Homo sapiens: one gene and its partners. The protein of the gene in region 1 interacts with the protein of each later gene in a biochemical or structural test. Each region holds a gene or a part of one and is shown in the gene's direction. Other genes may lie near its edges. The genes, in order: FIP1L1, PAPOLA, CPSF1 and CPSF4.

The links.
Region 2: the proteins of FIP1L1 (region 1) and PAPOLA form a complex in vitro, tested with the Homo sapiens proteins (one study listed by BioGRID).
Region 3: the proteins of FIP1L1 (region 1) and CPSF1 form a complex in vitro, tested with the Homo sapiens proteins (one study listed by BioGRID).
Region 4: the proteins of FIP1L1 (region 1) and CPSF4 form a complex in vitro, tested with the Homo sapiens proteins (one study listed by BioGRID).

The regions. Positions count from the first base shown.
Region 1 is NC_000004.12:53,380,617-53,387,641, forward strand, and holds part of FIP1L1 (pre-mRNA 3'-end-processing factor FIP1), read left to right. Parts: intron 1-1,661; coding exon 1,662-1,719; intron 1,720-3,156; coding exon 3,157-3,260; intron 3,261-7,025.
Region 2 is NC_000014.9:96,526,369-96,533,393, forward strand, and holds part of PAPOLA (poly(A) polymerase alpha), read left to right. Parts: intron 1-1,061; coding exon 1,062-1,171; intron 1,172-1,584; coding exon 1,585-1,638; intron 1,639-5,106; coding exon 5,107-5,218; coding exon of another isoform or gene 5,219-5,328; exon of another isoform or gene 5,329-5,962; coding exon 5,963-6,052; exon of another isoform or gene 6,053-6,142; coding exon 6,143-6,281; coding exon of another isoform or gene 6,282-6,303; exon of another isoform or gene 6,304-7,025. UniProt on the Homo sapiens protein: Polymerase that creates the 3'-poly(A) tail of mRNA's. Also required for the endoribonucleolytic cleavage reaction at some polyadenylation sites.
Region 3 is NC_000008.11:144,399,323-144,406,347, reverse strand, and holds part of CPSF1 (cleavage and polyadenylation specificity factor subunit 1), read left to right. Parts: intron 1-514; exon of another isoform or gene 515-518; intron 519-1,052; exon of another isoform or gene 1,053-1,183; intron 1,184-3,357; exon of another isoform or gene 3,358-3,481; intron 3,482-4,233; exon of another isoform or gene 4,234-4,433; intron 4,434-4,674; coding exon 4,675-4,702; intron 4,703-4,784; coding exon 4,785-4,918; intron 4,919-5,056; coding exon 5,057-5,137; intron 5,138-5,272; coding exon 5,273-5,424; intron 5,425-5,530; coding exon 5,531-5,677; intron 5,678-5,854; coding exon 5,855-5,994; intron 5,995-6,002; exon of another isoform or gene 6,003-6,071; coding exon 6,072-6,182; exon of another isoform or gene 6,183-6,262; coding exon 6,263-6,356; intron 6,357-6,479; coding exon 6,480-6,567; intron 6,568-6,637; coding exon 6,638-6,760; intron 6,761-6,844; coding exon 6,845-6,896; intron 6,897-6,974; coding exon 6,975-7,025. UniProt on the Homo sapiens protein: Component of the cleavage and polyadenylation specificity factor (CPSF) complex that plays a key role in pre-mRNA 3'-end formation, recognizing the AAUAAA signal sequence and interacting with poly(A) polymerase and other factors to bring about cleavage and poly(A) addition.
Region 4 is NC_000007.14:99,441,942-99,448,966, forward strand, and holds part of CPSF4 (cleavage and polyadenylation specificity factor subunit 4), read left to right. Parts: intron 1-393; exon of another isoform or gene 394-433; intron 434-755; exon of another isoform or gene 756-1,568; intron 1,569-2,847; coding exon 2,848-2,898; intron 2,899-6,179; coding exon 6,180-6,332; intron 6,333-7,025. UniProt on the Homo sapiens protein: Component of the cleavage and polyadenylation specificity factor (CPSF) complex that play a key role in pre-mRNA 3'-end formation, recognizing the AAUAAA signal sequence and interacting with poly(A) polymerase and other factors to bring about cleavage and poly(A) addition.

The DNA.
Region 1 (7,025 bases):
AGCTTAGGAGGAGCTGAAACTACAGTTCAGCTTCCTTACCCAAAAAATCCCCTATAGTCTTTTCACTCATTGGTATATTATCTGAAATGTTATTTCATTTTAAAATTTATATATTCAACTCAGTTCCTAATTCTGATCTCAACCACAAAGTTGAGATTAGTTTTAGTTTATGTTATGAAAGTGATTGAATATTTCTTTGTACCCATTCCTTCAGTTGGTCAAGAAATTAATTACAGGTATAGTTTTACAATCAAATATACTTTTCTATATGATAATCTTTATCCCATTAATTTTTATTTTTATTGGTTACAATTTTAAAAGCTTACTTTCTAATCAAACATTCTTTAATTTTAATTCCGCAATACACAACTTGCTAAAATTTATTGGAGGGAACCTTCTACCTTCCCTGAGTGTCACTGTCAACATAGCTTTATATTCCTTTCTGCAACTTCATTTGGGGAGCCGTTGAGTTGATTTCATCCTATGGGGGAAAAAACAATTTCCTTTACAGTGTTATTTTTCTAGAAAAAGCTTAAAATTTTATCATGTTTCTAACATTTTAATGGTGATAGAAAATTAAAACTTCCAAAAGAGTAGGCCTATTGAAGAAAGGTACTCTGCCAGACCTACTGCTATCTGGCTTGGTACATCATTGCATTGCTCTACCAAAGTTCCTGCTATTAGAATTTGCCCGTTTCCTACTGACTGGCTCATTGCTGAAGCCTCTGTTTTTCTTAAACATTGCATTGCAGTCTCCAATTGTGTTATATCTATCCAAGTTTTGACTAAAGAAGGGATACTGTTTTGTGACGTAGAAAGCAAATGGGACTTGCTTCTGGCTACCTAGAAGCTTATTTCAGCAGGAGGTAAATGTACTGAACAATTATAGCTGCATATTTGTTTTCTTGAAGCAAGCAGTAGAACAATGAAAATATAACAGTTATGTTTTGACTTTTTATCTTTCATTTTGCTTTATTTGGTGATTGTGCTATAAAATGCCACTGTAAAGATCAAATTGATTTAGGATAATTAAAATTGATTAAGTTTGTCATATATTTTTAAAATGTGTAAAAAGCTTGAATTATAGCCCACCATCAAATTATAAATCATTAATAAACTGTGAAGGCATTTGCATTCTTTTTTTTTTTTTTTTTTTTTTTTGAGACAGCATCTCACGCTGTCGCCCAGGCTAGAGTGCAGTGGCATGATCACTGCAGCCTCACTGCAACCTCTATCTCCTGGGTTCAAGCAATTGTCTGCTTCAGCCTTCCGAGTAGCTGGGATTACAGGTGCCCGCCACCATGCCTGGCTAATTTTTTTTTTTTTGTATTTTTAGTAGAGACGGGGTTTTACCATCTTGGCCAGGCTGGTCTTGAATTCCTGACCTCGTGATCCACCCACCTCAGCCTCTCAAAGTGCTGGGATTACAGGCATGAGCCTCCACGCCCAGCCTGGCATTTGCATTCTACTTACAATGTTGAGTACTTGTCTTCTGCAAGTTACTAGAAATAACGGAATAAGACAGTCAGATTTTACCATTACTGTCTCCAGTGGAGACAATAATTTTAGGAGCTTTATTAAAGCTTAGAAATACTAATATAATCTATCTGTACTTCCGAAAAGTAATGCCTGACATGTATACTTACTTTTGTTGTTTGTAGTGCTAATCCTCCATCTGGAATTGAAGATGAAACTGCTGAAAATGGTGTACCAAAACCGGTAACATAAGGCTTTGAAATCCAGTTACTGATACAAATCTTTATCAATAGCTTCACAGTTTACATAGAAAGCAAGCTGGCATTTTACATTACCTTCAGTATCAGGTGTTATCTGGCCCTTTCTTACATCTCCTACTTCATCTGGTGCCATCAAAAACATATATAGGAATTAAAATGAGGAAAAGAAATAGTAGAAAGACTGCAGAGGAAAATAGTATGTGCAAAGGCTTGATGTTTATTGCTTTCAAGGAATTGAATGGTTATAAATCTACTGAATATAGTGAGCCTGGTTTTCAGAGCAAGTTTTGAGCCCACAACCTTTCACTGTTACGATTTTTTAACGTTGCTTTTTAATGTATGTGACAGTCCCTGACTGCATGCCTGCATGCCATTGATACTTTGTGAGGTGAACATATCATTGGTCCTATGAATATTTGTGCATTTTAATCCTATAAAAGGAAGGAAGTTATTGTTCCGGAAGTTTGAAGTTGTATACAAAAAAGTATTTTGCCTATGTGATCTACTTATTTACTATGATGTGATTAAGCACAAAATAGCCTTTAAGAGCCAAAGTAAAATCTTCACAAATATAGAATTTGCATGTAGGGCCTCTTCTAGGTATACAAGAATACCAAGAATAACTGAGCTTCTACTTAACTATTTGGTACTTCTTATGCTTTGGGGTTTTTTTTTTTAATTCTTTAATTGATTTGGTACATTGTATTTGTGACACTGTGAATCTTAAAATTGTTTTCCTCTTAGATTCTTTTTTGCCAAGACTTCTCAAATACTTATTTTTTATAATTTTATCTTGTAGGTATCTTAGTAAGTTGCTTTAGATCTTTTTGCAAGAGGGGCAGATATGATAGTTAAAAAAAAAATGAGGTGTTGTTTACCACAAGGAGATGATGCCAAAAAGATTTCATTTCTTTATTCATAGTCTTATCCTTTTTATCCTGTAGAACATCAAAATTATGAGTTGAAATAGGTGGCAGCATTATAAGCTTGTAACTTTTAAATTGTATCTCAAAAAAATACAGAGTGGGGCCGGGCATGGTGGCTCACGCCTGTAATTCCAGCACTTTGGGAGGCCAAGGTGGGTGGATCACCTGAGGTCAGGAGTTCGAGGCCAGCCTGGCCAACATGGTGAAACCCTGTCTCTGCTAAAAATACAAAAATTAGTTGGGCATGGTGGCGGGCACCTGTAATCCTAGCTACTCTAGAGGCTGAGGCCGGAGAATTGCTTGAACCTGGGAGGTGGAGGTTGCAGTGAGCTGAGATCATGCCACTGCACTCAAGCCGGGGCGACAAAGTGAGAGTCTGTCTCAAGACAGAAGAAAGAAAAAAAAAAACAGGGTGGTTACTTTTTTTAGTTATTAGTATTAGATGTTGAAATGGATTACTGAATGTATTTTATAATTTGTTTATGTTCATGTAGAAAGTGACTGAGACCGAAGATGATAGTGATAGTGACAGCGATGATGATGAAGATGATGTTCATGTCACTATAGGAGACATTAAAACGGGAGCACCACAGTATGGGTAAGTTATTTTTTAGTAAGTAACAATTGTGTAAATGCTATATAGTAAGGAGAGTGTGCCTATATCAAACTCTCAGTGGTTGAGTCCATTGTTTTTACATTTTTCTATTTTAACATAAAAGAACTTGTTAAAGTTTCATCATGAATATACTTCTTTGCTAAAATACAGTTAATTGATTAGGCGAAGGTACATAGAAGCAGCAGTTTTTGATGCTGAATTTAAAGTGTTTTTATAAAAGAATTGAGTGCTAGGCCAGGCATAGAGGTTCATGCCTGTAATCCCAGGACTTTGGGAGGCCGAGGCGGGTGAATCACCTGAGGTCAGGAGTTCAAGACCAGCCTGACCAGCATGGTGAAACCTTATCTCTACTAAAAATACAATAATTAGCCAGGCATGGTGGTGGGCACCTGTAATCCCAGCTACTCCAGAGACTAAGGCAGGAGAATCACTTGAACCTGGGAGGTGGAGGTTGCGGTGAACCCAGATCGAGCCACTGTACTCCAGCCTGGGTAACAGAGTGAGACTCTGTCTCGAGAAAAAGAAAAAAAAAAAGTACTATAAATTCTTTGATTAGAATTAGAAATCCTTAAATTGTAATTTGTATCTGTACTTATTATTATTTCACTTTATTATCCAGACCTGAGTTTAGGTTTTTAATTTTTTTGCCTAATAAAAACAATATCAAAAGTATTTCTTTTTGTTCTTAATAGTGTTTTCAGGTTTCTAATTCTCCCTTAGGCCTTTTAGGCCAATGTTTGTCTCCAATTTTGTATTCTATAAACTGGACCAAGTAAATGGACTGTCATTGACTCATTGAGCGCATAAAGAATCTTACAGAAAGATTGGAAGGGAAATACATTGAAGTACGAATTGTGATTTAGTTACGATAGGAGAATAAGAGTCAATGTGTTTTGTTTTTCAAATTGGCTGTATAATGTGGTTATTATAGCTTATGCATTGGAAACATAAAATACATTAATTTCACTATAGTTCATTAAGCAACCTCATCTGGAATCAACCAGTATATACAAAAATATTGTTAAATATTTTATTAGTAGAGTCATTTGTTTTCAGAAGTCATTTCAGGAAGCTTAAAGCCAATTCAGTTATTGTCATAGTCAGTTTTGTATTATAATAATGACTACCCATGTAATTTTAAAATCCTAGCACCTTTTTAGGGAACAGAGTAAAGAGGCTGATTTTTCATGTTAGGGGTGGATATTCTAAATGTGCTCCTCATTCTCATTTGGGAAAGTAAATAATTACTTAATGAGAAAGTTGGGCTTATACTGTAGTACTAGTAGGCCTTTACTATCTGCATGATGCAAAAGGAACACATAAAATTGTAATAATTGCATGTTCATTAAATGTTATGTAAAATTATTTGTATTTGCAAGTTATAGAACAACTTGAAGCAAATGACAATTTTTTTGGATTATGGATGGGACCTTTTTTTGGTAGAAATTGCACTCAAATATTAAATATACGTGGACTTCCATAGTACCTTACTAAACTTTATTTCTTATAGCAATTTTCAGTTTTATGCATTGTAATTATGTTTATACATATTTATTACCTTTACACACTTCAGATTTCTATAGAGTAGAAACCATTGAATTCAAAACTCTTCAAAAAAACAAGAAACTGTGATTTATGGAGTTTTCTATTCCTCACATTGCCTTAAATACAGTTAAGTGTGCAGTAAATGGTTATTGACTAAATAAACTGAATGTTATTTAGTTACAGTTGTCTCTGAGGGTTTTTCCCCTTAGACATTTGATTATGAAAATTTTCAAATGCTCACAAAAGTTGAAGGAATTGACATGTGAATGCTCATTTACCCATCACCTAGATTATACAATCTACATTTTGCTTTGTTTGCTTGAACTCATATCCCTCTATGCGTTTACCCATTTATCAGTTGATTTATTTTTTATTCATTTTATGCATTTCGAAAGTAAAGTACAGGCATTTGTGAAGAGTGTAAAGTTGTTTAACCTCTATATTTCAAGGTATATCCCTTGAAAACAAAGTCAGTGAGAAAATGAAATTTGATAAACATTTACTTATGCACAGCGTTTTCAGAAGCAAATTTAAAGAACAAACTGTGTCCAAGGACTGAATTGATTTATTGTAAATTGTTAGGAAATACAAAATAGCATTTTTTTTTTTTTTTTGCGTAACATACCTTTGTTACAAGTTCATTTTATATGTAAGTAAGGTATGAAGAAAAGCAACTCTTAAAGTAGAAATAATTTATCTTGGAAAGTAGTTTGTTACCTATCTCTGTGAGATTGATCCATTTATGTACTCAATAAATAATTTTTAAAGACATAATTTATCTGGCACTGTGTTAAGTAGCAAAGATAATGTGCCTTTATCAAACCATCTGTGATCATTCCATTATTATTATTGTTTTTACATTTACCATGCTACAAAAGAACCCTTGGTAAAATCACCATGAAATTTCATGGAGTTAACAAATTAGATAAAGTTACATGAAAGCAGCAATTTTTTATCTGTGAATGTATTAATTGATGAGAATACAGGAAGTTATTATTTTCCAGAGGTAGTGAGGATGCCAGACATGTGAGTAAATATTTTCAGTGCAACATAAGTGCTAGAATAGAAACATGTACAAAGTGATTCGAAAGGTTTGAGAGGAGAGTTGCTAAAAGCCTACAGGTGTTGAAGAGAAGATCCCAGAGGTAACATTTGAACTTGTTTGAATAATTTTTGAGATGGGAGACAGTGGTTTTTAGGTGGAGGACACTGCCTAACAATAAATATATTAGATGCGTGCCTTGGAGGAAGTACATGGCTGGAGGATAAGGTAGATGAAAAGAGATGGTTGAAATCACTTATGGAAGGAGTTAGGATGCTTTTGCTATGTCTTTGTAGACCTTGCAAGCTTGTCCAATGCACCTTATTTTGTTGCTGTTGTTGTTCTGTTTTGCTTTGTTTTAGTCTTTTAGCTGCCCAAAGCCATGGTTTTTAGTTTCTGTCTCCAGTGATAAGTGGAAAAGAGGGGTGATAAAGGGGCTTTACTGGCCTAACCAGAAACAGAAACTAAGGACTCATGACTGTATTCTCTCCCTTAGACACCCCTAATTAGGTTTTTAGACAGGTCATATCATTTGAAAAGATAACTCTAGCATCAGTAGTTGAGATGGGTTAGATAGAGAGACATTGACTAATAGATGTGAAGTAGTTGTCCAGGTGAGATGATAATCTAGACTAAGGCAGCAGTAGTAGAGAGATGAATGGGAAAATAGTACATTTGAGTATTAGAGAAACAGAAATATAGTCAGGCATGTGGTATACACCTGTAGTCCCATGGACTTGGGAGGCTGAGGTAGGAGGATTGCTTGAGCCTTGGAGTTTCAGGCCAGCCTGGGCAATATAGTAAGATCCTGTCTCAAAGAATAAATAGAAACAAATAACATGGGTAACTGGTTGGTTGTGGATGGAGGAGGAGATAAAGGGCTCAGTGACTTAAAGATTTCTAGAGCAGTTAATTGGGTACAGGTGGGTGCTACTGCTCCCACCTCCCACAAAACAGATTCATTTGACATGTTTATTTTGGAGTTCCTATAGAAAGTCCAAGTATAGGATCTAGCATTTAGAGTGGTCTGAGACTTCATAGGGATCTATTGGACATTATATCAAATTTGCCTCTGCAATTTTTCATACCACTAAGCTTCTCTACACAGGCTTCTCTACAAAGGCTTGTGGCTTAAAAAAGAAAAATGATGTTTTAAAAGG
Region 2 (7,025 bases), on another chromosome or scaffold:
TGTTGCACAGGCTGGATGCAGTGGCACAGTCTTGGCTTACTGCACCTTCCACCTCCTGGGCTCAATTGATTTTCAGGCCTCAGCCACCTGAGTAGCTGGGACTACAGGCACACGCCACCATGCCTGGCTAATTTTTTAATTTTATTTTGGTAGAGACAGGGTTTTCCCGTGTTGTCCAGCTGGTCTCGAACTCCTGGGCTCAAGCCATCCACTTGCCTCGGCCTCCCAGAGTGCTGGGATTACAGGCATGAGCCACCACGCCCAGCTGAGGCTGTATTCTTTAACCATGAACTGTATCTGCCGAGATAGTGTTGTCTGTTTTCTAGTATCCTTTCCTCTCTCCATCTCCCATCACTCTGTCCCATTAGTACATTACTTTTGATATATCCTGTGTGCTGTACACCGTTCTTCCTGTTCTAATAAATAGCTTTCAGAGTCATACCTCAGCATCTTGTCTTTTAGGAAAATGACTGTTGACCTGATTCCACATTAATCTCTCCCTTTTATGACCCCAATTGATTTTAATTCTCCTTTTTAAAATTCTGCCTATGTACTTAGTGCTGGCCTCTTATCAAGCACTGAATTAATGACAAATATTTTACCATTGTCTACTTCTTTGGATTCTTCTGCTTGAAGTTTATTTTGTAGGTCCCATTTAGGGGCCTGGTAGAGAACCTATAAGCACCAAATACGTAGTACATAGAGGAAAACTATTTTTGTTTTACCAATGAACATGGCTATGACTAATGACATCAAGATGTTGGGTGTATGTTTGAATAATTCCCTCTCCACCATGAAAGTACTTGCTGAGCCATCTTTCTTTGGGCTCCCAGTTTACTTGGGCCACTATAAATAGAGGATGCTGCAGGATCAAAATATACCACATCAATTAAAATCATGTTTGTCCTCCATTGACTGGTAATTTTAAGTAAGGGGTGGAACATTTTTAGAAGCTCACCAGTATGTTAAACAGATTCTCAACATCAAATACTACCATGATAGGATGCAAAATAATTTTCTTGTAATATTAATTAGTGGTTGATGGGCTTAATTTTTTTTAGGTGCTGATATTGATGCGTTGTGTGTTGCACCAAGACATGTTGATCGAAGTGACTTTTTCACCTCATTCTATGATAAGTTGAAATTACAGGAAGAAGTAAAAGATTTAAGAGTGCGTAAATGTTCGGGGTGAAATGGGATGAGTTATGAACATTCATTTAGTCAGTTGAGTGAATTTTATGATATAGCCATCATTTATTGAGTTCTTGCAATTTGCCAAACCTTTCTAAACACTTGGCATATGTGTTTGTGTTTTATTCTTTACAGCAAGCCTAAAATTATAAACTCATTTACAGATTAGGAAATTGAGGCAAACAAAATAAATATGAAATAATCTGGCCACAATCATACATCTGATGAGTGGGTGAAGTAAAATATTTGAACCTTGATTTCTGATCTGTCTGATCGAACAGCCCAGTCTTAAAGCTAGCTATTTTTGTGTCAGGTGTTTTGCTAAAGTACTAAAACTAGTAGAGGCTTAAAATGTAGTTTCAGAGACCCTGAACTTGTTTACTTTCCTTATAGGCTGTTGAAGAGGCATTCGTACCAGTTATTAAACTCTGTTTTGATGGGATAGAGGTAAGGTATAGTTCAAATTGACAGTTCTTGCTATGTGCTGTCACTAATTTTGATTGATATAGGTTAAAAACTTGGTTTAAAGTTTATAATTAGTGAGTTGGTTGTGATATTAATAACAATTAAGGCTTTTAAATGGAAGTGACTGCCTATTCTTGTAGAATATACCATTTTAAATCTTTTTAAAAATACCAAGTGAAATTTGGAGCTAAAACAGAAGTAATGAAACCTTAAGATTGAAATGCTATTACAAAAAAGTTTTTTTGGTAGCTTTTCCATATGCCAGTTTTGTGTGCTTTTAGTCTCATTAAGGCAGTAGCATAATGTGTTTTTGCAAGTAATGCTTTGCTTTGACTTCATTTAAAAATTGGGAGAAAAGTGTGAGTGCTGAAATATCTTCCGATAGGGGAGGATTTATGGACTCAAATTCTTGAGATGATGTTCATTTCTCCTTGCTGCTTTCGGTGTGTGTAATTAAAGTGATGAGAATAAAGTTGACAGTGAAGCAACTTTAGTAATTCATTACTTTTGCTGTACAGAATGGTACTGGAAAGTCACAGATAATAAAGTGAAGATTGTAACATTTTGGAAACTGTAAGAGAAATAATTTATTGAAGCTGGGCACAGTGATGTGCACCTATCAGGAAGCTGCTACAGGAGGATCTCTTGAGCCCAGGAGCTTAAATCTAGCCTGGCAATGTAGCGAGACTTAATCTCTTTAAAAAATAAAAAAGATAATTCACTGTTGTACTATTTTGCAAAAAAATGGCTGCATCTAAGGTTGCTGCATAAGACGCTCAACTCTGTATTTTATGAAAAGTCAAGTGACTGACCTTAATAAGTAGACATAAAATGTTAAATTTGGTAAAGGATTATCAAGTTCATGTAGTTTTGATTTACTGTCAGTGTTTTAAGTAAACGTAAAAATAATCTGTAATATAAAGTATAAGTTGAGGCCTCATTTTCCTAAAAAGAATATTACTGACAAAGAGGACTTTTTTTTGGAAGGAGACCTGACCTAACTTTGTAAACTTTACAGGATCAAGATGGAAAGTTAGATGGCTACTTAAAACATTTAATGTGTTAATTTTCTATTATACATGCTATATTAAAAAATAATATTTTAGGAACATAATATTTTAGGAAATTTAGTAATCATTTTCACATTTCAATATTTTTTGAAGTAATTCCATCCTTTAAAAAATGTGTCAGTATTATTACTGAGTTGCTTTTTCAGTTACCTAGTTTTATGAGCCTATAATCTTTATTTCTGTCCAAATTGGGGGAGACTTTGAAATCTGTTCTTTTTCATTGAACAGTTTATCCTAGACCACAAGTACTTATTTGTGTAACAGTACAATTTTTTTTCTGTAGGTATGTTTAAATGATATTTTAAAATGTGCTCCTAAAATACTGCTTTTTAAAAAGTGATCTAGTAGCCAGGCACGGTGGCTCATGCCTGTAATCCCAGCACTTTGGGAGGCCAAGGTAGGTGGATCACGAGGTCAGGAGATCAAGACCGTCCTGGCCAACACGTTGAAACCCTGTCTGTACTAAAAATAGAAAAAATTAGCCAGGCATGGTGGCGTGTGCCTGTAGTCCCAGCTACTTAGGAGACTGAGGCAGGAGAATCACTTGAACCCGGGAAGTGGAGGTTGCAGTGATCCAAGATCCTGCCACTGCACTCCAGCCTGGGCGACAGAGCAAGACTCTGTCTAAAACAAAAAAACAAACAAACAAAAAAAAAGTGATCTTATAAAAGGCTTGTTTACAGCGACATCCACATTTTTGGAACCATGAAATCATACCCTCAGGGATAACTACCAAAGCTGTGCTGTTTCTTTGCACTCTCACCTTTCCTTTAGAAAAGAAACAATTTTGTCAGCGGAATTCTATGTCTTCAAAATTAGCCTTAACTGTGGTTGTTTTAGGCTGTACTTTCCCCAGTGTTTTTGTTTTACTTAAAACTCAGTTGGAAAAACATACTGTAGTATTACAGACATAAAAGTTCTCAGATATAATGGAATCTCTTTATTGAGAATTATTTTTGGCTAAATGTAAGGATGTTTGCCTTATATTTGAGTACTATTAAGTTCTCATGTATAATGAGATCTCCCCTTATTGAGAGGTATTTTTGGCTGAATATAAGGCTATTTGCCTAAATTTGGGTACTTTTTAGTATGTAATCAATTTATAATTCATATAGATGAAGAGCTAAACAGTTAACTTTAATTCAGCATATGTATTTACTAGACTTACTATATCCAGTAGATGCATTTAACAAACTTAATACATCAAACTTGATAATTGTGATTAAACTGACAACCAGGTATTTGTACATTTCCATTTCTGTTTTAAAAATATTGCCATGTTTGTTTGTTTTTTTTTTTCTTTTTTTTTTTTCTGAGGCAGGGTCTTACTTTACCCAGGCTAGAGGCAGTGTTGCAATCACAGTTCACTGTAGCCTCAACCTCCTGGGCTCAAGGGATCCTCCTACCTCAGCCCCCCCAAGTAGGTGGGACTACAGGCGCTTGTCACCATGCCTGGCTAATTTTTAATTTTTTTTGTAGAGATGGAGTCTCACTATGTTGTCCAGGCTGATCTCGAAGACAGCCTCAAGCAGTCTTCCTGCCTTGGCTCCCAAAGTGCTGGGACTACCGGCGGGAGCCACTACCCCCAGCCTATATTGCCATGTTTTAAAATTATCTAATTAAAATACCTATGATACGAAATAATATAGTTTGGACTTTTGGAGGGACATTGTCGTGTTCATAGATAATGAAAGGATCCTGGCTTTAAGGAAAATTAGGTTTTTGTTTTGCTGTTTTGAGTCAGGGTTTTACTCCTGTCACCCAGGCTGGAGTGCGGTGGCATGGTTTTGACTTACCGCAACCTCCGCCTTCCAGGCTCAAATGATTTTTCTGCCTCAGCCTCCCACAGGTGCATGGGAGGTCCATAGCTGAGACCACAGGTGTGTGCCACTACACCTGGCTAATTTTTTTGTAGTTTTTGTTTTTGAGACGGAGTGTTGCTCTGTCACCCAGGCTGTAGTGCAGTGGTGCGGTCTCGGCTCACTGCAGTTCTGCCTCCTGGGTTCACACCATTCTCCTGCCTCAGCCTCCCCAGTAACTGGGACTACAGGTGCCCACCACCATGCCCGGCTAATTTTTTTGTATTTTTAATAGAGACGGGGTTCACCGTGTTAGCCAGGATGGTCTCGATCTCCTGACCTCGTGATCCGCCTGCCCAGGCCTCCCAAAGTGCTGGGATTACAGGTGCGAGCCACTGTGCCAGACCTGTATTTTTTTTATAGAGACAGGGTTTCGCCATGTTGCCCAGGCTGGTCTTGCTCAAGTGTTCCACCTGCCTCAGCCTCCCAGAGTGCTGGGATTTTTTGTTTGTTTGTTTTTTCATAGAAATGCCTTAAAAGTAGTTTGACAGATATGGAATGTTGTTTTGTTTGTGTTTCAGATTGATATTTTGTTTGCAAGATTAGCACTGCAGACAATTCCTGAAGATTTGGATCTACGAGATGACAGTCTGCTAAAAAATTTAGATATAAGATGTATAAGAAGTCTTAACGGTATGAGAAAGCCTACTTCCTTTTGTGTACTTCAGTTTTTGTCAGATATTAGTTGTTTTTACACAAGTTTTGTATTGAAGCTTTTTATAGCTATATTGTTAACACAGTAGTGAGTTAAATAAAATGAACTTTGCCTAATAAACTACAGAAGAGTATGTAGTAGTTTATTTCACTCTACAGTATTTTATACACTGTATTTCTTCTGTCATTAATGGTATACTCAGGACACTTAAAAAGACCATCTGACTTTTGTACTCTGTTGCTAGTGATTTAGGTTTCATGGCCTAACCCAAATTAATTTTGATCCTGTTATTCTTTAGTAATGCTTTCAGCATTGCTGAGATCAGAAGGACTACTTTGGTACAATTTTATATTAGCATAGCTTGTTACTGTGCTCTTGAAGAGCAGTTCTTGGAAACTTTAGTGGATTAAGTCTTCCGCAGTATATGTGGGAAGTTTTAATTGTGAATCTGAAGTTCAAATTGGGGCAGGTTACAGTTTACTTTGGTTTCTTTGGTCAGTGCTTACAATAGGAGATAAATGCTTTAGATTTTTTCCCCCTCTTTATTGAATTAGCTTTACTGGTTCTACCAAATAAAAATTTATGTTTACTTTTAACTTCAATCTCAGAAAATTTGGAAGCATTACCATTAAACTTTTGATGATTTAATGTTGTTTTTTTTTGTTTTGTTTTGTTTTGTGTGTGTGTGTGTGTGTGTGTTTTTTTTTACCCCTATTAATTAGGTTGCAGGGTAACCGATGAAATTTTACATCTAGTACCAAACATTGACAACTTCAGGTTAACTCTGAGAGCTATCAAACTATGGGCCAAACGTGAGTTCAGAATTTGTTGGCTAGCTTATTAAAAATGTTCAAACTTTTGTTCAACACTAACTTATCTTTTTGCTTTTCCCTTATCAACAGGCCACAACATCTATTCCAATATATTAGGTTTCCTCGGTGGTGTTTCCTGGGCTATGCTAGTAGCAAGAACTTGCCAGCTTTATCCAAATGCAATAGCATCAACTCTTGTACATAAATTTTTCTTGGTATTTTCTAAATGGTATGTGTTTAGATTATATTAAAATAAAATTGATTGTAGACACTGAAGTTTAGTCTTATTTCTATGACATTTCTCAGCTTGGTTTCAGATTCAAATTTTAGTTCATGATGTAGTCATGTAGGCAGCCTTGGAGATCACATTGTGTATAAAATGGCAAACTGAAACTATTTTTTTTCCCTAGTTTGGCCAGGATAGTAAGGCAGATTCTATTTGTACTTCCTTGCATAAACTTACCCTCTGAATAAACTCTGAATTTTAGCAGCTAAGATCCAATTTATTGATAGGTTGGGAAATCAGTTACTATACTTTTGGATAAAACTTGTACACACTACCTCTTTCACTCTTTTAATTCTCTATCTATAGGCCATTAGTTTCTTGTGATTGTTTTTTTTTTCTTTTTGCTTTCAGCATTTATTTGGCCTAATATTAAAGATACGAATTTTCATAAGAAGCTTTTAAAGAATAAATTAACATTAAGTGCTTCGGGACAAAAAAGGAATTTGAGATTAGTCATTAACCCAGATTTTTTTAAGTTTCTTCGTTTCATTTCCACATATGTCAACTATGATTTAAGAAAAAGTAGAATAAAAGATTACTGCCATTTTATATTAATTGCCTTGGCCCAAAAGGTGAGGGTTCTTGGTTTTTAATCAAATTAAGATAAATCGTCCATTCCTGTTCTTATGAACTCCTGCTCCTCCCTCTGCAAAAGAGATGTTCTTTTCTAGTAATTTTATAAAAATT
Region 3 (7,025 bases), on another chromosome or scaffold:
ACAGGGCAGTCTGGTGGGCACGAGGGGTTGTGGTCTGAATGGAGCAGGGGTAAGAGCCCAGCAGGGGAGGAGAGTCAGTAACAGTGAACACAGACAACTCTGGAGGAGATGTGCGTAAACTGAAGCAAGAAATGGAGCCATAAATAGCAGGAAAAGAGGTTTTCTTCTTCTGTTTTGTTTTTTGTTTTTAAGAAACGGGGTCTTGCTATGTTGTCCAGGCTGGCCTCGAACTCCTGTGCTCAAGCCATCCTCCTGGGGTCAGTCTAGTCGTGGCTCTGTAACTAACTGCCCTGGAATATGCAAACGAGGTCTTTTATCATAATCGCAGACCTGGAAGCCAGGTTTTCAGGGATTCATCAGAGTGTGGGGAGCCCTTGGCTCTCCTCCACCAGGGCAAGCCTTGACAGGGATGACTTGAAGAGCTGGGGACAGGCTAGATGTGTCTTCCCCTACCCCCACACCGTCCCTCCACTCTCCCCTGTCCCCAGCATGGCTAGCTTGGTTTTCCTGGCAGCATGGTGGTGTTGGTGTAGTTGAGCTTCTTGCAGGAACTCAGAGCCCTAGGAGGCTAAGGCAGAAGCTGCCAGTCACTTTAAGGGCTAGACCAGGAGGGCACCGTCCCTGCCACCACAGTCTGCCCTAAAGGCAGCCTCCAGCCCAGATTCACCTGGAGAGGGAGGGAGACAGCCACCTTTCATACAGCTGTCTTTTTTTTTTCTTTTTTGAGAGAGAGTCTCCCTCTGTCACCCAGGATAGAGTGCAACAGTGCGATCTCAGCTCACTGCAACCTCTGCCTCCCGGGTTCAAGCAGTTCTCCTGCCTCAACCTCCCGAGTAGCTGGGATTACAGGCGCCTGCCACCACACCCAGCTAATTTTTTGTATTTTTGGTAGAGATGGGGTTTCACCATGTTGGCCAGGCTGGTCTCGAACTCCTGACCTCAAGTGATCCACCCGCCTTGGCCTTCCAAAGTGCTGGGATTACAGGTGTGAGCCACGGAGCCCGGCCAAGACATTCCCAGGTGTTTAGATGAGACATTTGTATTTTTGACAGGAACACCACAGAAGAGGCAAACAGCAGCCCCATCAGCTTTCAGGAGGCGGCGGAGGCCTTTGCCTCATGACTGGATGCTGATGCTTTGATGCTTGGTTGGGTAGTGTTGGCCTGGATTCCCCCACTGTAAGGTTATTTCTTCCTTTTGTAACTAAAAGTATCTTGTAGGGACTTATTTTGAAACCCTGTAAACGTCCTCTTATTCAGATTTTCAAGGTTTTTTTTTCTTTCTTTCTTTCTCTTTTTTTTTTTAGACGGAGTCTCGCTCTATCACCCAGGCTGGAGTGCAGTGGCACAATCTCGGCTCACTGCAAGCTCCACCTCCTGGGTTCAAGCGATTCCCCTGCCTCAGCCTCCTGAGTAGCTGGGACTACAGGCGCCCGACTAATGTTTTTGTATTTTTAGTAGAGACGGGGTTTCACCGTGTTAGCCAGGATGGTCTCGATCGCCTGACCCCGTGATCCGCTTGCCTCAGCCTCCCAAAGTGCTGGGATTACAGGCGTGAGCCACCACGCCCAGCCTTTGGTCGCTATTTCTTTAGCTATTGATTCTGTCCCCTTTCCCCCAACATGCCAGTTAGACCATTTGACTATGTACACATTTTTCTTAAAATCCTTCTGAGTGGTGGCCGGGCGCAGTGGCTCACGCCTGTAATCCCAGCACTTTGGCAGGCCGAGGTGGGTGGATTGCCTGAGCTCAGGAGTTCAAGACCAGCCTGTCCAAGATGGTGAAACCCCGAGTCTACTAAAATACAAAAAAAAAAAAAATTAGGCGTGGTGGTGGGCGCTTGTAGTCCCAGCTACTCGGTAAGCTGAGGCAGGAGAATGGCTTGAACCTGGGAGGCAGAGCTTGCAGTAAGCCAAGATTGTGCCACTGCACTCTAGCCTGGCGACAGAGCAAGACTCCGTCTCAAAAAAAAAAAAAATTCTTCTGAGTGGTTACCCCTGTTTCTTGCATGTACACAGAAGTGCAGTTGATCTCTGTATATTGACCTTATACTTGGCAGAGTGGATCAGGCGTCCTTGGCTGGTCCTGACCAAGAGGGAAAACTTCTTTTTTTGTTTGTTTTTTTGAGACCAAGTCTCTCTCTTGTCCCCCAGGCTGGAGTGCAATGGCATGATCTTGGCTCACTGCAACCTCCGCCTCCCGGATTCAAGCGATTCTCCTGCCTTAGCCTCCTGAGTAGCTGGGACTACAGGCACCTGCCACCACACCCAGCTAATTTTTGTATTTTTAGTAGAGACGGGATTTCACTATGTCACCATGTTGGCTAGACTGGTCTCGAACTCCTTACCTCAGGTGATCCACCCACCTCGGCCTCCCAAAGTGCTGGGATTACAGGCGTGAGCCACTGTGCCCGGCCTCAAAAGGGAAAACTTGTAATGTTTCACTCCCAGCACCACATTGCTGTAGACTTTTTGTAGATACCCTTTATTTGATTAAGGAAGTTGGGCGCGGTGGCTCATGTCTATAATCCTTGCACTTTGGGAGGCCAAGGTGGGTGGATCACCTGAGGTCAGGGGTTCGAGACCATCCTGGCCAACATGGCAAAACCCTATCTATTAAAAATACAAAAATAGCCGGGCATGGTAGCACATGCCTGTAATCCCAGCTACTTGGGAGGCTGAGGCAGGAGAATTGCTTGAACCCAGGAGGCAGAGGTTGCAGGGAGCTGAGATCACACTACTGCCCTCCAGCCTGGGTGACAGAGTGAGACTCTGTCTCAAAATTTAAAAAAATAAATAAATTAGTCAGGTGTGGTGACTCACATGTGGTCCCAGCTACTCAGGAGGCTGAGGTGGGAGGATCACCTAAGCCCAGGAGGTCGAGGCTGCAGTGAAACATGATTGCTCCTCTGCACTCCAACCTGGGAGACAGTGAGGCCCTATGTCAAAAAACAAAGGCCTGGCGTGGTGGCTCATGCCTGTAATCCCAGCGCTTTGAGAGGCCGAGGTGAGTGTATCGCTTGAGGTCAGGGGTTGAAGACCAGCCTGGCCATGGCAAAACCCTGTCTGTACTAAAAATACAAAAATTAGCTGGACGTGGTGGTGGGCGCCTATAATCCCAGCTACTGAGGAGGCTGAGACAGGAGAATCGCTTGAACCTGGAAGGCAGAGGTTGCAGTGAGCCAAAATCACACCATTGCACTCCAGCCTGGGCAACAAAGTGAGACTCCATCTCAAAAAAAAAAAAAAAATTTTCCTCCTATTTTTGCTTTACTAGGAGTTTTTATCACGAATGCCTTTATCAGATGCTTTTTTTGTATCCACTAAAATGACATGATTTTTCTCCTTAATTTTGACAGCATGGTAAGTTTAGCGATGGCTGTTCTTGCGGAAATCTAGTTTTGCGTTCCTGGAATAACTCAACCCAGTTGTGTTACAATACCCCTGCTTGTCACTGGGCTCATCTGCAGGCGTTTTGAGGAGGTTGGTGTCACTTCCTGTCCCACCTGTCTGTGGGCTGTTGGGGTGGCCTGAGCCACCTGCGGTGCCGTCAGCCCCACATGAGTGGGTGTGTGTTTTTTTTTTAAGTGTGTCATTACTTCTGAAACCTTTGGTAGAATTTGCGGGTGAAGCCCTGGAGTTGCCCTTGTCGCTGTGAGATGGGTATTGGTTTGTGGATGCTTCTTCTGTATCTCTTAACCAGCTTCCAAGATGCCCTCCCCATAGCACAAGTCCATCGTGAAAAATGACCTTGAGGTGGCTCACGCCTGTAATCCCAGCACTTTGGGAGGCTAAGGTGGGCGGATCACCTGAGGTCAGGAGTTCGAGACCAGCCTGGCCAACATGGTGAAACCCTGTCTCTACTAAAAATACAAAAATTAGCCGGACATGGTGGCACGCACCTGTAATCCCAGCTACTTGGGAGGCTGAGGCAGAATCACTTGAACCCGGGAGGCAGAGGTTGCAGTGAGCCAAGATCACGCCACTGCACTTCAGCCTGGGTGACAGAGTGAGACTCCGTCTCAAAAACAAAAAACAAAAAACAAAAAAAAACAAAACAAAAACCACTTTTCCCTTGCCTTGAGGCAATGGCATATAAATCTGCTAGCTAGTTAAACTAGCTACCTAGTAGCAAAGAACACACAGCCTCTTATCATTCTGGGAGGGCAGTGAAAAGGGAGGAGATAGAGAGGCAGCCTGGGGGAGCCCGAGGCGTCAGGATAGCGCAGGGCTTCCTCTTCTCTAACAGGCACGCAGATCAGTAGCTACAGATACCCCTTGGCTCTGGCTTCCTGCCCTGTGACATTTGGACCCAGGGGCCGGGGCTGGGCTGCTGTAGGTGTGCAACCAGGCAGGTTTGGGGGTGTGCAGACACAGAGTGCACTCTAACCCTGAGTGCTTGCCGCACAGGGCCTGGCTGCTAGGGAGCCGTGAGGTAGGGGCTTCCTGGGGAGGGGCCTGTGCCAGGGCTGGGCCGTGGGCATGAGAGCGTGAATGGGGGTCGCTGTGGGGGGCTGTGCACAGCTGTCTCCAGAAGCCCTTCTCCCTGCTGCAGAGAGGGTTTGGGCAGAGCTCCCAGGAGGCAGGGGCCAGGCTTGGTGGTCTTTTCTCGTTCCCCGGATGAGGTGAGCTGCCAGATGTGGCCCCTCACTGCCCTGTCTTTCTCTCCCCTCCAGGCTCTGACCAAGAATGACAGGAGCACAGGTGAGTGTGGTGGGGCGGCCTGGGGCTGTGCGGGTGCCAGGCATGGCTGGGCCCTGACCCTGAGCCCTGGTGTCTCCCCTAGAGGGGAAGGCCCACCGGGAGAAGCTCGAGCTTGCTGCCTCCTTCTCCTTCTTTGGCAACGTCATGTCCATGGCCAGCGTGCAGCTGGCAGGAGCCAAGCGGGATGCCCTGCTCCTAAGCTTCAAGGATGCCAAGGTGAGTGGTAGGCTTGGTGGGGTAGGCCTGGCCAAGGCGTGGGAGTGGGTGCCAGGGCCTGGGTACAGCCGTTGGTTGCCGGGGGCGACACTGTCAGGACCGGCAGTCGGCAGCCACGGCTGTGCCCTCTGACCGCAGCTGTCTGTGGTGGAGTACGACCCGGGCACCCATGACCTGAAGACCCTGTCACTGCACTACTTTGAGGAGCCTGAGCTTCGGGTAGGGCCGCGCTCCCGCCCCCGCCCAGGCCCCGCCCAGCCACCCTCCCTCCCCCTGCAGCTGGGTTCTGTGGCCCCAAGTGTTTCCCTCGGGGTCTCCTATGCTGGGCCTGGCTGATGCCCCCTCTGCCCCCAGGACGGGTTTGTGCAGAATGTACACACGCCGCGAGTGCGGGTGGACCCCGACGGGCGCTGTGCAGCCATGCTTGTCTACGGCACGCGGCTGGTGGTCCTGCCCTTCCGCAGGGAGAGCCTGGCTGAGGAGCACGAGGGGCTCGTGGGTGAGGGGTGAGTGCCAGCTGAGGCAGGCTGTGGTGCTGGGGTGGGAGGCGCCAGAGCCCGAGCTCCCCTCCCCGCCTCCCCTCCTCTCCTGCTGAAGCCCCTGGCCCCCCAGGCAGAGGTCCAGCTTCCTGCCCAGCTACATCATCGACGTGCGGGCCCTAGACGAGAAGCTGCTCAACATCATCGACCTGCAGTTCCTGCATGGCTACTACGAGCCTACCCTCCTCATCCTGTTTGAGCCCAACCAGACCTGGCCTGGGTGAGCCCCCTAAGGAGGCCCCTCTGCACTGTGGGCCCCCTAGCTGCCTCTGCCTGGGGTGGGGCCCATGGGGTTTAGGGCGGGGCCTATGGGGTGTGGTGGGGCTTGCTCGGGAGGAGCTGGGCCTGGGTCTCTGCGGGGAGGCAAGGCCCTTGGCTGACCCACTGGCGTCCCCAGGCGCGTGGCCGTGCGGCAGGACACGTGCTCCATTGTGGCCATCTCACTGAACATCACGCAGAAGGTGCACCCCGTCATCTGGTCCCTCACCAGCCTGCCCTTTGACTGCACCCAGGCTCTGGCTGTGCCCAAGCCCATAGGTGTGTGTCCTGGGAGTGGATAGGGGAGTGTGTGGAGAGAGCACTGAGCCTGCCCACCAGCCTGTGTCCACCTCCAGGTGGGGTGGTGGTGTTTGCCGTCAACTCGCTGTTGTACCTGAACCAGAGCGTCCCCCCGTATGGCGTGGCTCTCAACAGCCTCACCACAGGAACCACGGCTTTCCCGCTTCGTGAGTGTGGGGTGGCTGGGGCGGGGGGGGCCCGGGGACGGCTTGGGCCTGCCTAGTCGGCCTGACCACCCACCCCACAGGCACCCAGGAGGGTGTGCGGATCACCCTGGACTGCGCCCAGGCCACCTTCATCTCCTACGACAAGATGGTCATCTCCCTCAAGGGCGGCGAGATGTGAGCCCCTCCCCCGCCCATGAACTCTGCCCACACCGCCCCCCACAAGTCCTGTAGGGTCCCCTGGCCCCCTTCACTCCCCCAGGGTCCCCATCCCCGACTCAGAATTCTCCCTGCCCCCAGCTACGTGCTGACCCTCATCACCGACGGCATGCGCAGTGTCCGAGCGTTCCACTTTGACAAGGCGGCCGCCAGCGTCCTCACCACCAGCGTGAGTTGGGACTAGGGGTTGGGTCTGGGTCCAGACCCGGCCCAGCCATCACACACCTGCCCTCCCTCAGATGGTCACCATGGAGCCCGGGTACCTGTTCCTGGGTTCTCGCCTGGGCAATTCCCTCCTCCTCAAGTACACGGAGAAGCTGCAGGAGCCCCCGGCCAGTGCTGTCCGTGAGGCTGCCGACAAGGTGGGTTTCCTGGGCCCATTGGGCCACCACCCTTCATGTGGGCACTGCTGTGGCATGCCACTCAGTGCCCCTCCTGCCTCACAGGAAGAGCCTCCCTCAAAGAAGAAGCGAGTGGATGCGACGGCCGGCTGGTCAGGTGAGGGCCGGTCCAGGGCTGGTCAGGAGCGGGGCCAGGTGACCCAGGGCTGCGCTCAAGTGGGCTCTCTGTGTGCAGCTGCGGGTAAGTCGGTGCCGCAGGATGAGGTGGACGAGATTGAAGTGTACG
Region 4 (7,025 bases), on another chromosome or scaffold:
TCAGCCTCCCAAAGTGCTAGGATTACAGACGTGAGTCACCGCACCTGGCCACTTTCAGACTTTTTGAGATGCAAATGGAGTGACCTCCCTGTGACAGCCATAAGTTCTATAACCTCAGCTGTGTCCTAGCAAAATCTGCTTGCTTCCAAGAAGCCAAGGAATCTTTTGTGATTTAGCAAGGGGAGGCATGTTAAGTGGGCTTCAGAGATGCTGTCATTGGTTTTTCAGCAATTCTAAAATGGTTACTTGTAGAGGAAACTGTTTCTGATGCCAAGGTCAGTTTAGTCTGGCAGCTGGGGCTGGTGAATTCCTGGACTCATCAGAACAGCTGGTCCCTGGAGCCCACTGAATTCCAGCACACTCCGACTGTGGGAATGAAAGGCTGTGCTTTTTTTTTCTTTTCTTTTCTTTTTTATTAACAAGCAACATAATCGGCCGGGCGTTGTGGCTCACACCTGTAATCCCAGCACTTTGGGAGGCCGAGGCGGGCGGATCACGAGGTCAGGAGATCGAGACCATCCTGGCTAACACGGTGAAACCCCGTCTCTACTAAAAATACAAAAAATTAGCTGGGCAAGGTGGCGGGTGCCTGTAGTCCCAGCTACTCGGGAGGCTGAGGCAGGAGAATGGTGTGAACCCCGGTGGGGCAGAGCCTGCAGTGAGCCGAGATCACACCACTGCACTCCAGCCTGGGCAACAGCGAGACTCCGTCTCAAAAAAAAAAAAAAAAAAAACAAAAAACAAGCAATATAATCAAAAACAAAAACACAACAACCTTAAAGCTGAAACAGCAATAAGTCAAACTGCCGCGGCAGTTCACAGTTTTACCTGGGGTACCTGCTCCCTCATTGCAAGGCAAGACTGCATTTAGTATATATGTGACCAAGAAGAATGAGAGAAGTGGAAAACACTGGAGAACAGAAAGTATCAAGAACCTTTCATCAGGCAATGCCAAAGCGCTCTGCTCTTTTCCTCTTCTTTGCCTCTGTATCCTCTGTGGTTCCAGTTCCAGCTGAACTTGTGACAATCCCAAATCGCTCCTTCCTCTTTTTCAGTTTCTTATCATCTTCAGACTTTCTGGAAATTGAAGAGACATTCAAACCAAATCTTTGAGCTCTTTCCTTCGGCTTATCCAAGTTAACCATAGGTGTGTTCAGATGACAGACTTTTGTTGGAACTGAAGAAATCCCAAACCTAGCTGCCTGAGCAGCTTTCTTACTCTCCAAGCTCACAGGTACACTGAATTGTTCGGCCCTCTTCTGCATTCTCTCAGCCTGTGGTATTTCAGATGTAATTTTCACCACTTTCTTCTCTGCTGCCACATCAACAGTTTTTTTCAGGGGGTTCTTCCTATTTGACAAGGGGTTTTTTTCTTCTTCTGTTTCATCTCCTAGTACATCTTCATTTGCCTCCTCTTCAGCATGTTCTTCAAGATATGCCTGGAGTCTGTGGATAAGATCTTGCTTTATTCCCTTGGTCTCCAAACCACAAGAAGACATTCTTGCTTTAGTTTAGCAAGCTTCAGCTTATGGAGCTCCACCATCTCAGTTACCATCTTGTTACCCCTCCGGGTGTGCTCTTTTAATAATTGTATGTGGGGTGGGGTGCGGTGGCTCAATCCTAGCACTTTGGGAAGCCAAGGCAGGCGGATCACGAGGTCAGGAGTTCGAGACCAGCCTGTAATAATTGTATGTGGGCCAGGTGTGGTGGCTCACGTCTATAATCCCAGCACTTTGGGAGGCCAAGGTAGGTGGATCACTTGAAGCCAGTAGTTTGGGACCAGCCTGGCCAACATGGCAAAACCCTATCTCTACTAAAAATACAAAAAAATTGGGCAGGCATGATGGTACACCTATAATTCCAGCTACTCAGGAAGCTGAGGCAGGAGAATCTCTTGAACCAAGGAGGCAGAGGTTACGGTGAGCCAAGATCGCACCACCACACTCTAGCCTGGGCGACAGAGCGAGACTCTGTCTCAAAAAAATAGAAAAAAAAAATTGTGTACGGATGTTGCATATTAAAAGCAGTCCTCTGTTTCTGCACTTAATGTGCTTCCCCCTGGACTAGCATCTCAGAGGCACTGCCTCTTCCTTGAAGCCTGACCCTCCTCAGAGGCCCTGATTGTCTGTACGTCTGTGAGATCATTCCTTCCCTCTGCCTCATGTTAAGGTATCTGTGAATTCGCCCTCCTGGAGGAAGGTGTGAGCTAGGGGCCGTTAATTTATTCCTGTGTGTCAGGCACTTTGGCTCAACGCCTGTAATCCCAGCACTTTGGGAGGCCGAGGTGGGTGGATCACCTGAAGTCAAGAGTTCGAGACCAGCCTGGCCAACATGGTGAAACCCCGTCTCTACTAAAAATACAAAAATTAGCCAAGCGTGGTGGCAGGCACCTGTAATCCCAGCTACTTGGGAGGCTGAGGCAAGAGAATTGCTTGAACCTGGGAGGCAGAGATTGCAGTGAGCCAAGATCGCGTCATTGCACTCCAGCCCAGGCAACTAGAGCGAAACCCCATCTCAAAAAAAAAAAAATTATTTCTGTGATCTCGTACTCCAGCCTTCCTTTCCCCACCCACTCTTAACTCCTTGAAAGGATCTTATATACAGGAGGCTCTCAAAGCACTGGGTAATGACTGTTCTCAATGTATGTGTCTCATTTTGTAGGGCGTGACTAACTTAAGCAGCTTCTTCCTTGCTTGGTTGGGCTTTGCAAATTTTTGCTACTTTATTTCCTGTACCCTGAACCCTTGGTGGGTCAGAGGTCAGAAGGGTTCCCTCCCACTGTCTTCAGACATTGTCAATAGCAAATTGCACCTCTTTGATTCCTCTCCTTTTCTCTCCTTTCTACAGAGTCGGGCGCTGCTGTCTGTGAATTCTTTTTGAAAGCTGCCTGCGGCAAAGGTAAGAAACTCCGGGCTCCCTGATGTGCCTCCGGAGGCGCCCTCCCACCTCCTTCTCCCCGGCAGACTTGGAGGCCGCCAGGTCTCTGGCTTACATTGCTTTCTACAGACTAACGATCTCTGTAGATAAAACTGGTTTGGACAGGCTAGGACCCTGATGGGGTGTTCCACCTGAAACCTAAACGCAGGACTGAACCTGGCTCTAAGGCTGCCTTATCACTTCGCATTCCCCGTGGCCACAAGCTGACCTGTGACATGGAGAGAAGCCCCCAGCATTGAGACACTCAGGAACTTTCTCAATGTCACAGAGTTAATAAGCGGCAGAGCCCAGTGTCTGAACCCAGGTCTTTCTCATTCCATAGTTTCCACTGGCTCATGGTTTTCTGTGGCCTCCCATCGAAACACCCCATGATAACCCATCTTGCGGGGTCTTGTTCTCGATAACCAGCCCTCAACACAGACTACACAAAACTACTGAGGTGCGAGAATCCCTTGAACCAGGGAGTCAGAGGTTGCAGTGAGCCGAGATCGTGCCATTGCACTCCAGCCTGGCAACAGAGCAAGACTCTATCTCAAAAAAAAAAAAAATCTTGCTTTATTTGCTCGTCTCCAAACCACGAGCAAGACATTCATTCTTACTTTAGTTCAGCAAGCTTCAGCTTATGGAGCTCCACTGTCTTGGTCGCCATCTTGTTACCCCTCTGGCTGTGCTCTTTTAATAATTGTATGTGGGCCGGGCTAATCCATCAGAAGTATCACTAGGGGTCAGGCGTGGTGGCTTACGCCTGTAATCCCAGCACTTTGGGAGGCCGAGGTGGATGGATCACCTGAGGTCAGGAGTTTGAGACCAGCCTGGCCAACATGGTGAAACATCGTCTCTACTAAAAATTCAAAAATTAGCTGGGCATGGTGACGCCCGTCTGTAATCCCAGCTACTGGGGAGGCTGAGGCAGGAGAATCACTTGAACCTGTTAGGCAGAGGTTGTAGTGAGCCAAGATCGCACCACTGCACTCCAGCCTAGGTAACAGAGTGAGACTCTGTCTTAACAAAACAAAACAAAAAAAAAAGAAAGAAAGAAGTATCACTAGGTACAACCTAAACTTTCCATGGTCTGGGCATTTTTCTCCCTGTAGGAAAATTTATTTAGGAGACTTAAATATTAATCAGAAGCTTGAAAAAGAGAGCAGAGAATCAGAGCAAAGGGCTGGTTTTAATGAATGGTTTTGGTGAGTTTTGCTTCTATAACGTAGTCATTTACCACTGAGGTAGGAGACTTTCTGGCAGATCAGCCAGGCCACCTTCACACTGTCCAGTCAGAACGTCATTACCTCCACTGAGTTTCTGGTCTCATTCCCATGTCTTTGCTCAGTAATTCTGCCCTTCTGACCAGCCACCTTCTGTTAGCACAGCCATCCCTAACACAGGGCATTCTGTCTCTCTGTTGACTAATACAGTAGCCACTAGTCACATGTGGCAGTTCAAATTTAAGTAAAATCAAATCACATTTAAAACAAAATTCTCAGACACACTAGTCATATTTCAAGTGCTCAGTAGTCACATGGGGCTAGCAGCTGCCATATTGGACAGCAGAAGTGTACAGCGGCCTCATTCTGGTCGGACCTCCATGGTGGTCTTGCCAGGCCACCCGTTAGAAGTCTCACACATCCCCAGAGGCTGGCTCTGTCCCATCAGGTCCTGTCCCAGAAGGGACACGTCCCTCCATGTGTATACATCACATTTCCTCAATTCTGAAATTGGTCTTTCCTTTTTTTTTTTTTTTAAAAAAGAGGCAGCATCTTACTCTGTCACCCAGGCTGGAGTGCAGTGGCACAGTCATAGCTGACTGCAAGCTTGACCTCCTGGGCCCAAGTGATCCTCCCACCTCAGCCTCCTCAGTAGCCAGGACTACAGGTGTACACCACCATACCCAGCTTTTTTTTTTTTTTTTTTTTTTTTTTTTTTTTTTTTTAACGGAGTTTTGCTCTTGTTGCCCAGGCTGGAGTGCAGTGGTGTCATCTTGGTTCACTGCAACTTCTGCCTCCTGGGTTCAAGCAATTCTCCTGCCTCAGCCTCCTGAGTAGCTGGGATTACAGGTGCACACCACCACGCCCAGCTAATTTTTTGTATTTTTAGTAGAGACAGGGTTTCATTATGTTGGCCAGGCTGGTCTCGAACTCCTGACCTCAGGTGATGCACCTGCCTTGGCCTCCCAAACTACTGCGATTGCAGGTGTGAGCCACTGTGCCTGGTCCCCAAGCTTGCTTGGCTGGCTTACTTACTTACTTACTTATTTATTTATGTAGTGAAGACAAGATCTCAGGCTGATCTCGAACTTCTTGGCTCAAGTGATTCTCCTGTCTTGGCCTTCCAAAGTGCTAGGATCATAGATTTGAGCTCCTACACCCGGCCAAGTTCCTTTCTTTTTTTTTTTCTTTTTTTTTTTTTTGAGACAGAGTTTTGTTCTTGTCATCCAGGCTGGAGTGCAATGGCGTGATCTCCGGTCACTGCAACCTCCGCCTCCTGGGTTCAAGCGATTCTCCAGCCTCAGCCTCCCAAGTAGCTGGGATTACAGGCACCCACCCGCAAGCCGGGCTAATTTTTTTTGTACTTTTAGTAGAGATGGGGTTTCACCATGTCAGCCAGGCTGGTCTCGAACTCCTGACCTCGTGATCTACCCACCTCAGCCTCCCAGCACCTCCCCCCTTTTAATTCCTCCATCTTACAGTAATATCTGTGAGATCATGAGTAACTTTTTTTTTTTTTTTTTTGAAAAGGTGTCTTGCTCTGTTGCCCAGGCTGGTGTGCAGTGGCGCGATCTCTGCTCACTGCAAGCTCCGCCTCCCGGGTTCACGCTGTTGTCCTGCCTCAGCCTCCCGAGTAGCTGGGACTATAGGCGCCAGCCACCATGCGCGGCTAATTTTTTGTATTTTTAGAAGAGACAGGATTTCACCGTGACAGCCAGGATGGTCTCCGTGCCAGCCAGGATGGTCTCGATCTCCTGACCTTGTGATCCGCCCACCTCGGCCTTCCAAAGTGCTGGGATTACCAGCGTGATCCACTGCGCCCGGCCATGAGTAACTATTAAAATGTAAAATGTCTGTCAGTGTAGTACCTCAAATCATGTTGCCTTCTGTGAGGGGGACCTCTGCCCCTTTCCAGGACGTGATGCCTTCAGGTGGCTCCAGGAGTTAGGAAGTGAAGGTACCTCAGCTTCTTCAGGCCGTGTCCCCCAGGCTCAGGGTGGCCTCTCTGCTGACACCCTGTCCCTATCTTGCCGGCAGGGGGCATGTGTCCGTTTCGCCACATCAGTGGTGAGAAGACAGTTGTGTGCAAACACTGGCTGCGTGGCCTATGCAAGAAAGGGGACCAGTGTGAGTTCCTGCATGAGTATGACATGACCAAGATGCCCGAGTGCTACTTCTACTCCAAGTTCGGTAAGGCGCCTGGAGCCCTGGAGGCTCTGCTGAGAACCAGGGTGCAGAGGGGTCCGCTGGCTGCTCAGTGCCCACACTGTCTCTGCCTGCTTTTCCCATCTTTCTATTCTCAGAGGAGAACTCTGGCAGAACCTGCCAGCCTCAGCCAGCTTTTAGGGGACAGTGTGGCTATTTTCTGCTCATCTCTTTTTTTTTTTTTTTTTTTTTAAAGACATAGGGTCTCGCTATGTTTCACATACTGGTCTTGAACTCCTGGGCTCGAGTGATCTGCCTGCCTCAGCCTCCCAAAGTGCTGGGATTACAGGCGTGAGCCACCACGCCTGGCCCCGCGCATCACTTTGGAGTGCTTCAGTGTTTGGAGCTCTTTCAATCACTCGGATTTGAGGCTAACGAGGGTGACCCGGAAGCAGCGAGTTGTGCAGCTGGCTGCATTATGTCCGTGGTTGGTTTCTGTCCACGTCCACCTTCTCCCTGAAACCCACTTCTCCCTCCAGCGTGGGCATTGCCTCTCAGGCCCGAGCTGGTTCCTTCTCTCCAGGAGCCATGATCCTGGTGACATCTCAGCCATCCTAAATAGCCCTTCAAAATAACAGCCTCAGATGTGTCTTCTGGTAGCAACAAACTTGCCTTGAGCCCTGCTTAGAGAATGCGTGGCCTCAGCTGTCCTGAGTGGCCTGCGTGGAGAAGCGGGAG